Linked DNA regions of Homo sapiens. The protein of the gene in region 1 purifies or fractionates together with the protein of each later gene. This does not show direct contact. Each region holds a gene or a part of one and is shown on either strand. Other genes may lie near its edges. The genes, in order: ANGPTL8 and CHRDL2.

Region 1 (3,600 bases):
GGAGAGTGGATTCATGAGGGACCCATGGGGGATGCCCTACCCCCCTTCCCTGGGGCACAGCCACTGACCGGCAGAGCCTGGCTGGGGTCCTCGCCTGTCATGTACTGCACTCGCACAGCAAGGTTGCGCACGGAGCCCTGGCGGCTGCTGAAGTTGAGGCTGTGCGGGTACACGTACAGCAGGTTCCTGTGGGGGGCAGGATGGGGGTGTCAGAGGGACAGGGGCCCTGAAGGTGCACATACAAGGCTGGGGTGATGGGACAAGGCTGGCTGGGAGCACAGACAGTCCAGGAAGAGTAGGTCATGAGGCTGGGGCATTGAGGGCCCGGTGAGAGGTAATACAGGTATCAGTCAGGAGATAGGACAGAGGGCAGAGGGTGGGGGACAAGCGAGCACCCTAAAAACACAGATTGGGAACAGTGTGGTAGAGGGTGGGAATACAGAAGGACATTGGAGGCACTCATGGGGCACAGTGACACACAGAAGGCAGAGAATAGCGAGGCACTCAGGGCCAGAGTTCCAAGGTACCTCAGGTGGCCAGTGGTCAAGCCTAAGCCCCACCCAAGGGCCTGACTGCCCTTCCCCCAGGAGGTCACTAGAGTTATGTGGCCTGTTTCTCAGGTGGGGAAACTGAGGCCAGAGTCCGAGTCCTGCCTCCTTCCCCCAGGGGCAACTCTGTGCAAGCCTTGACCCCTCTCTGGGCCTCAGTTTCCCTATGTGTATAATGGGCACTTCAGGCCTTCCAGCTGAGCCTTTGTAATGATACTGATGATGATAAATAACAACAATGACAATAATTGCACCAAACACTATTACTACAACAATGAAATAATCGCGCCTACTGTGTGCCAGGCTCTGTTCTAAGCACTCAACATGAAATAACTCATTTACTTCTCACAAGTAGCTCATGAGGCAGGACTAACATCACCGCCATTTTACAAGCAGGGAAACTGAGGTACTTGCACAATCACCCACGGAGTAAAATGGCAGTCAGTGGTGATCTGGGCATATGCAGGTCTTGGAGATCAGGCTGTGTGACCTTGGGAGAGTCTCTGCCACCTGCACCTGCCCCCTTGGATACTAACCAGGCCAATAAAAGCCCCCACGTGGCAAGTATGTGGGAGGGGAACAAGAGCAGATATTGTAATGGCAGGTCAAACAGCTCAGGGCAAACCATCAATGCTTATAAAATCTTTACTGTTATTACCATCATCATTGCGATGCCTATTCATAGATGGAGAAACAGGCTCAGCATGGTGAGTCTCAGGAACTCCCAGCAGGGTCTGGGGCCCGTCCTCTCCCAATGCCCCCCACCCACACCTGGCCCTGAGCCCCAGGAAGCGTGATCCCGGCGTGGCCTAGCCGGACATTCGCCTGATGCAACTATCGCACCACTGCCAGGCCCTTGTGCAATGCGGGGCACCAGGTCGGCCAGTTAACGATTGACTGGGGATCAGTGGGGGTATGAGGCATAAAAGGCTTCAGTGACAGTGCTGTGGCTATACCTTAGACCCTCAGTCATGCCAGTGCCTGCTCTGTGCCTGCTCTGGGCCCTGGCAATGGTGACCCGGCCTGCCTCAGCGGCCCCCATGGGCGGCCCAGAACTGGCACAGCATGAGGAGCTGACCCTGCTCTTCCATGGGACCCTGCAGCTGGGCCAGGCCCTCAACGGTGTGTACAGGACCACGGAGGGACGGCTGACAAAGGCCAGGAACAGCCTGGGTCTCTATGGCCGCACAATAGAACTCCTGGGGCAGGAGGTCAGCCGGGGCCGGGATGCAGCCCAGGAACTTCGGGCAAGCCTGTTGGAGACTCAGGTGGGCACCGTAGCTGCGACACTGTGGGGTGGCCAGGAGTCCAAAGAGGAGTTCGTGTCTAGGGTAACCAACCATCCTGGTTTGCCCAGGACTGAAGGGATTCCTGGGATACAAGATTTTCAGCGATAAACTCAGGCAAGTCCTTAGGTACACAAAGATGAGTTGGACATCCTACTAGTGACCCACTGTTTATTAAGCAGATGGAGGAGGATATTCTGCAGCTGCAGGCAGAGGCCACAGCTGAGGTGCTGGGGGAGGTGGCCCAGGCACAGAAGGTGCTACGGGACAGCGTGCAGCGGCTAGAAGTCCAGCTGAGGAGCGCCTGGCTGGGCCCTGCCTACCGAGAATTTGAGGTCTTAAAGGTAAGGAGCTCCCCCAACCCTAGTGGGCTGAGACCCTGATTTCCGGCCAGAACTCGCTTCTGCACCTTGAGTCCCAAAGACCTCCCAGATCAGCCTCCCAGCTCTGTGGCCTCTACCCTGCATGTCCCCAGACAAAACTCAAGTCCTTTTGTGTGCCTCAGTTTCCCTTTTGTGTGCCTCAGTTGCAAATAAGGGCAACACCTGATATCTCACAGTAGGGCCAGGTACTCAATGCAGGTAAAATATTCAGCATGGGGCGGGCACACAGTTGGTGCTCAATAAATTCTTTTTTTTTTTTTTTTTGAGACAGAGTCTCACTGTTGCCCAGGCTGGAGTGCAGTGGTGTGATCTTGGCTCACTGCAACCTCCACCTCCTAGGTTCAAGTGATTCTCCTGCCTCAGCCTCCTGAGTAGCTGGAATTACAGGTGCACCAGCTAATTTTTGTATTTTTTAGTAGAGATGGGATTTCACCATGTTGGCCAGGCTGGTCTCGAACTCCTGACCTCAAGGGATCTGCCTGCCTCGGTTTCCCAAAGTGCTGGGATTACAGGTGTGAGCCACTACACCTGGCCAATAAATTCTTACTACTAGAGAAACTGGTAACATTTTGTGAGCACCCAGTAAGTACCCAGCACTGTTCTATGCCCTTTAATAATCCATATGATGGCCGGGCATGGTGGCTCATGCCTGTAATCCCAGCACTTTGGGTAGCTAAGGTGGGTGGAACACTTAAGGTCAGGAGTTCGAGACCACCCTGGCCAACATGGTGAAACCCCGTCTCTACTAAAAATACAAAAAATTAGCTGGGCGTGGTGGCACATGCCTGTAGTCCCAGCTACTCAGGAGGCTTAGGTAGGAGAATCGCTTGAACCTGGGAGGTGGAGGTTGCAGTGAGCTGAGATCGTGTCATTGCACTCAGCCTGGGTGACAGAGAGAGACTCAAAAAAAAAAAAAAATCCATAGGATGTTCATCACCTCCCCATGAAGTGAGTCCTATTTTATCCCCATTTTACAGATGGGGAAACTGAGGCCAAAGAGCATTGTTGACTTGCTGGGTCACACAGATACAATGAGGGGCTGGGGCAGAGGGTCAGGGGATGGGAGGTGAGGTGGCTGTCGGCTGAGGTTTCCATTCTGACCCCCACAGGCTCACGCTGACAAGCAGAGCCACATCCTATGGGCCCTCACAGGCCACGTGCAGCGGCAGAGGCGGGAGATGGTGGCACAGCAGCATCGGCTGCGACAGATCCAGGAGAGGTGAGCCTGGCAGGGGTTTGGCAGGCAGGGCAGTTGGATGGGGGGCGCACAGGGCAGCTGGAAAGGGGCCCCCTCACCTGGGCTGAGCCACATCTCCCTCCCCAGACTCCACACAGCGGCGCTCCCAGCCTGAATCTGCCTGGATGGAACTGAGGACCAATCAT
Region 2 (4,021 bases), on another chromosome or scaffold:
CGGGTGGATCACGAGGTCAAGAGATCGAGATCATCTTGGCCAACATGGTGAAACCCCATCTCTACTAAAAATACAAAAATTAGCTGGGCGTGGTGGCACTCACCTGTAGTCCCAGCTACTCGGAGGCTGAGGCAGGAGAATCGCTTGAACCTGGGAGGCGGAGGTTGCAGTGAGCAGAGATTGCGCCACTGCACCACAGCCTGGTGACAGAGCAAGATTCCATCTCAAAAAAAAAAAAAGAATGAAAGAAGCTTCCAGGACTAAGGACCGTCAATTGGCTCCTCTTCCAGAATCTCTCCCTCTTTGTTAACTCTGTTCTTTCATCATTGATTTCGTTCATCAGGCACGAACTCTATGTAGGCTCTACCTTGAGCACAAAATTTAATGAGATCTGGTCCTTGCTCTCAAGAAGGTCCCAGTTTGGTTAGGAAGCAAAGCTTACTTAAGAAGTACCTCTAATCCATTTGTGATGAGAATTGTAATGAGGGCTGAACTCAGTTCTGCAGGAAAGGCCAGTGGCTGGAAGTTTGGGGCAGCTTCACAGAAAGGGTAGCATCTAAGCTGGCTTTTGAAGAATGGGAAGGAGTTGGTCAAACATTGGAGATGGAGGATTCCATTCCAGGTGGAGGAAACAGCATGTTTGAAGGCACAGTAGGAGGAGGCCTGGGGGCTGGTGGAAGAGTGAGGAATTTAGCAAGAGGAGGTGAGGCTGAAAACAGGGCCACCACAAAAAGTTTTGCTGGAAAAGCAGGCAGGAGCCACCTCATGATAGGCTGGGGATGACACAGTGACATTTGGAATCTGTCTGGTAAACATTGCTGTCCTGAAATCAGATTAGATCAACTAAGTCCAGTCACTTTAAGTCTGTTCAGACAGGTAAAGAGATTTGGCTGTGGCCCATCCAAGTGGACACTTCCTGTGGGAAAGGGAGCTAGTGTCTAGCACTTTGGATATGCCAAAGAGAAGCCTCTGTGTCCTTCATGAACCACATCCACTCCCACCTCTGTGCCTTTGCATCTAGCACCCACTGCCTGAGAAGTCCTTCCCCTTCTGCATCTTGTTAATTTCTCCAAGATCCAGCTCAGGCATGTTCCTAGAGAAGCCTCGCCTGAAGACCCTATGCTCACGCCATCATAGCGTTTGTCAGACTGAATGTATTGTATCTATCTGTGTTCTTCACTAGGCTGTGAGCTCCTTCAGGAGGTGACTTTGTTTTAAGTCATGTACCAGGCCCATGAATGTGTATAATATTTGACATACAAAAAGTTCAATAAATAAATGAATAATGGGAAGTAATATTACTGTAGCAGTCCCCCAGTATTCATGGTTTCAATTTCTGAGGTCTCAGTTTCCTGTGATTAACCTTGGTCCAAAATGTTAAATTGGAAATTCCAGAAATAAAGAATTCATACGTTTTAAATTGCACATCATTCTGAGTGGCATGGTGAATTCTGTTGCCATCCCTCTCTGTCCCATCCAGAATGTAAATCACCCCTTTGTCCAGTGTGCCCACGCTGTAGATGCTCCCCGCCCGTTAATCACTTGGTAGCTGTCTCAGTGATCAGATCAACTGTTGCAGTATTGCAAGGCTTGTGTTCAAGGAACCCTTATTTTACTTCATAATGGCACCAAAGCACGAGTAGCAGTGCCAGCAATTTGGATATGCCAAAGAGAAGCCATAAAGTGCTTTCTTTAAGTAAAAAGGTAAAAGTTCTCAATTAATAAGGAAAGGAAAAAAATGGTATAGTGAGTTTGCTAAGATCTACAGTAAGGATGAATCTTCTATTTGTGAAATTGTAAAGAAGGCAAAAGAAATCTATGCATGGTCTATGTAGGGTTCAGTACAAACTGTGGTTTCAGGCATCCACTGGGGGTCTTGGAATGTATCACCCAAGGATGAGGGGGGACTACTGTATTACTAATGATAATAATGTTTACTGCCTGTTATGCCAAGTGCCGCACACTCACGTATGTGTTCAGTCCCGAAACCTCAATCCTGACCTTGATGGCTCCTTTGCCTTCTCCACCCATATCCTATCCAGTCTGTCCCAAAGCCTGCCCATTGTACCTCCTAAGTGTTTCTCAAATCTGTACTTTTGCCCATCAGCACAGCTTCCATCTTGGTCCAGGTCCAGCATGATCTCAAAACAGGATGACTGCAACAGCCCCTCCCTGGTCTCCCTGCCTCCAGTCTTGCCCTCCAATCAGTTCTCCATTCCTGTGAGCACAGTGATGATTCTAAAATGCAAATCTGATCATGGAACTCCCCAGTTTAAAGCTTTTCCATGGCTTTCCTTTGCCTCTCAGGCTCTCAAAGACCTCCGTGAGCCTCTGCTTCTCCTTCCAGACTGGTCTCTTGCCTCTCACTCCTGCCTTCCCATTCTCTCCTCCAACTTCTGAGCCACTTTCATCTCTGTATCCCCGCCCAAGGTCTGTGGGCCTGAGGTGAGTTGAGGCAAACTAATCTGATTTATGAGTGGGGCTAGAAGAATGCAGGAGGCCACCAGAATCATGATTGGTGCAGTAGTAAATGAGACCTGGGAGATTTGGCCTCAGTGTGTGCTATGATGTTCATCCCCTAATAGGTGCCTGGGGATGACCACAGAGAGCTCTGGGAGTCAAAGAAACACCACAGGAAACAAACTATTAAGGAAGTCTGGGGTCAGTGCCCAGATCTGTTTTTTTTTAAACCTATTTAGTTGAGCATATAATATATGTCAGGCACTAGGCATATTACATATATTATCTGACCTAATTCTACAGTAACTCTGAGAGGTAAAGATTGTTATTAGTTCCATTTAATAGATGTGGAAACAGAGGCCCAGAATGGTTAGGTAACTTGTCTAAATTCAGGCTGCAAATAAAAGCCAAATCCACAATTTGAACCCCAGCCGATCTGACTCCAAAGGGTCCCTGAGAAAAGTCATGCTTGGTCTCTGAGATGGGGAGGGATGCATGGGCACAGGTGGGATGAGACTTGGTGGTGGGGTGGGAGAGGAATCAGGGCAGGTCCAAGGCCAGGGCAGAGGTGGGAACGCCACAGAGGACCAAAGGGAGTGTATGGGAAGGGAGTGAGGTATGAGACAAACTCTACCTCCTTCACACTCAGGTGACACACCTGTGTCACTCAGGACTGGTCCTACTGGCTCCCTGAACTTCATCCTAACCCACTTTGGAGCCTCTGAGAGCCTAAGATGTATGAGACCATCAACACATCCAAGAATCATAGAATCTTGGAATGATCGAATCTTAGAACCACAACATTGGACAATTCTAGAAGCTTTGTGTTCTAAGGAAAGACAGGTTCTTAGAAACATGGAATTCTCAAAATCCTGAACCTTAGAATCCTAGAATTTTGGAGTCTTCAAATGTTGAAATCATGGATTCATAAAGTATCTATGCAGAAAATCTTTGAAGATCATAGCTTACCCCCTCCCCTTATTTTGCAGATGGGAAACTGAGGCTCAGAGAAAGGAGGATGAGTCTCTGAATGTCACACAGTGAACTTGTGGCTTAAAGAACTAAAACTGTTTTCACCAGCCATGTTCAAGGGTTGGGGCTAGTGCCAGCACTGCAGGAACTGAGGCGGCCTGTCGCCGTCTGGCAGTTCTTCCTCCTGCTTGGTTCTGGCATGGCCTTGGGCACTCATCTCACTTGAGGAAGAGAGAGCTCCAGGCCATGCCACCCTTCCTTGTGCCTGTCACCTTCTAGGGTATGGTGGGGTGGGGATTGTGGCCACTGGAGGCCTCCTGCCAGGCCCCCCACATTCTCAGCCTCTGCCAGGTCTGTTGGTGGGGGGAAGGGGCCTCCTGCCTGGGCATTGGCTGAGACACTCTTTCTGTCTTCATGCTCTGAGCAGGCGGTGAGGTGAAGGGGGTGCCAACTGGCACAGAGACCTGGGCTACAGGGCTGCCCCAAGGAAGGGAGGACAGGGCTTCTTCAGCAACAGGCTGAGACCTAAGGTGGTGGCAGTGTTGCAATCACCCCCTCCCTGGTGGGAGGAGGGGACTGAGGAAGAAAG

Evidence for each region.
Region 2: the proteins of ANGPTL8 (region 1) and CHRDL2 purify together in Homo sapiens (affinity purification with mass spectrometry; one large-scale study listed by BioGRID and IntAct). This does not show direct contact.

The regions. Positions count from the first base shown.
Region 1 is NC_000019.10:11,238,119-11,241,718, forward strand, and holds the start of ANGPTL8 (angiopoietin-like protein 8 precursor), read left to right. Parts: upstream 1-1,500; 5' UTR 1,501-1,519; coding exon 1,520-1,816; intron 1,817-2,016; coding exon 2,017-2,178; intron 2,179-3,326; coding exon 3,327-3,436; intron 3,437-3,541; coding exon 3,542-3,569; 3' UTR 3,570-3,600. Other genes in the region: DOCK6 (dedicator of cytokinesis protein 6), read right to left, coding at 69-186. UniProt on the Homo sapiens protein: Hormone that acts as a blood lipid regulator by regulating serum triglyceride levels. May be involved in the metabolic transition between fasting and refeeding: required to direct fatty acids to adipose tissue for storage in the fed state.
Region 2 is NC_000011.10:74,721,218-74,725,238, reverse strand, and holds part of CHRDL2 (chordin-like protein 2 isoform 2 precursor), read left to right. Parts: intron 1-4,021. UniProt on the Homo sapiens protein: May inhibit BMPs activity by blocking their interaction with their receptors. Has a negative regulator effect on the cartilage formation/regeneration from immature mesenchymal cells, by preventing or reducing the rate of matrix accumulation.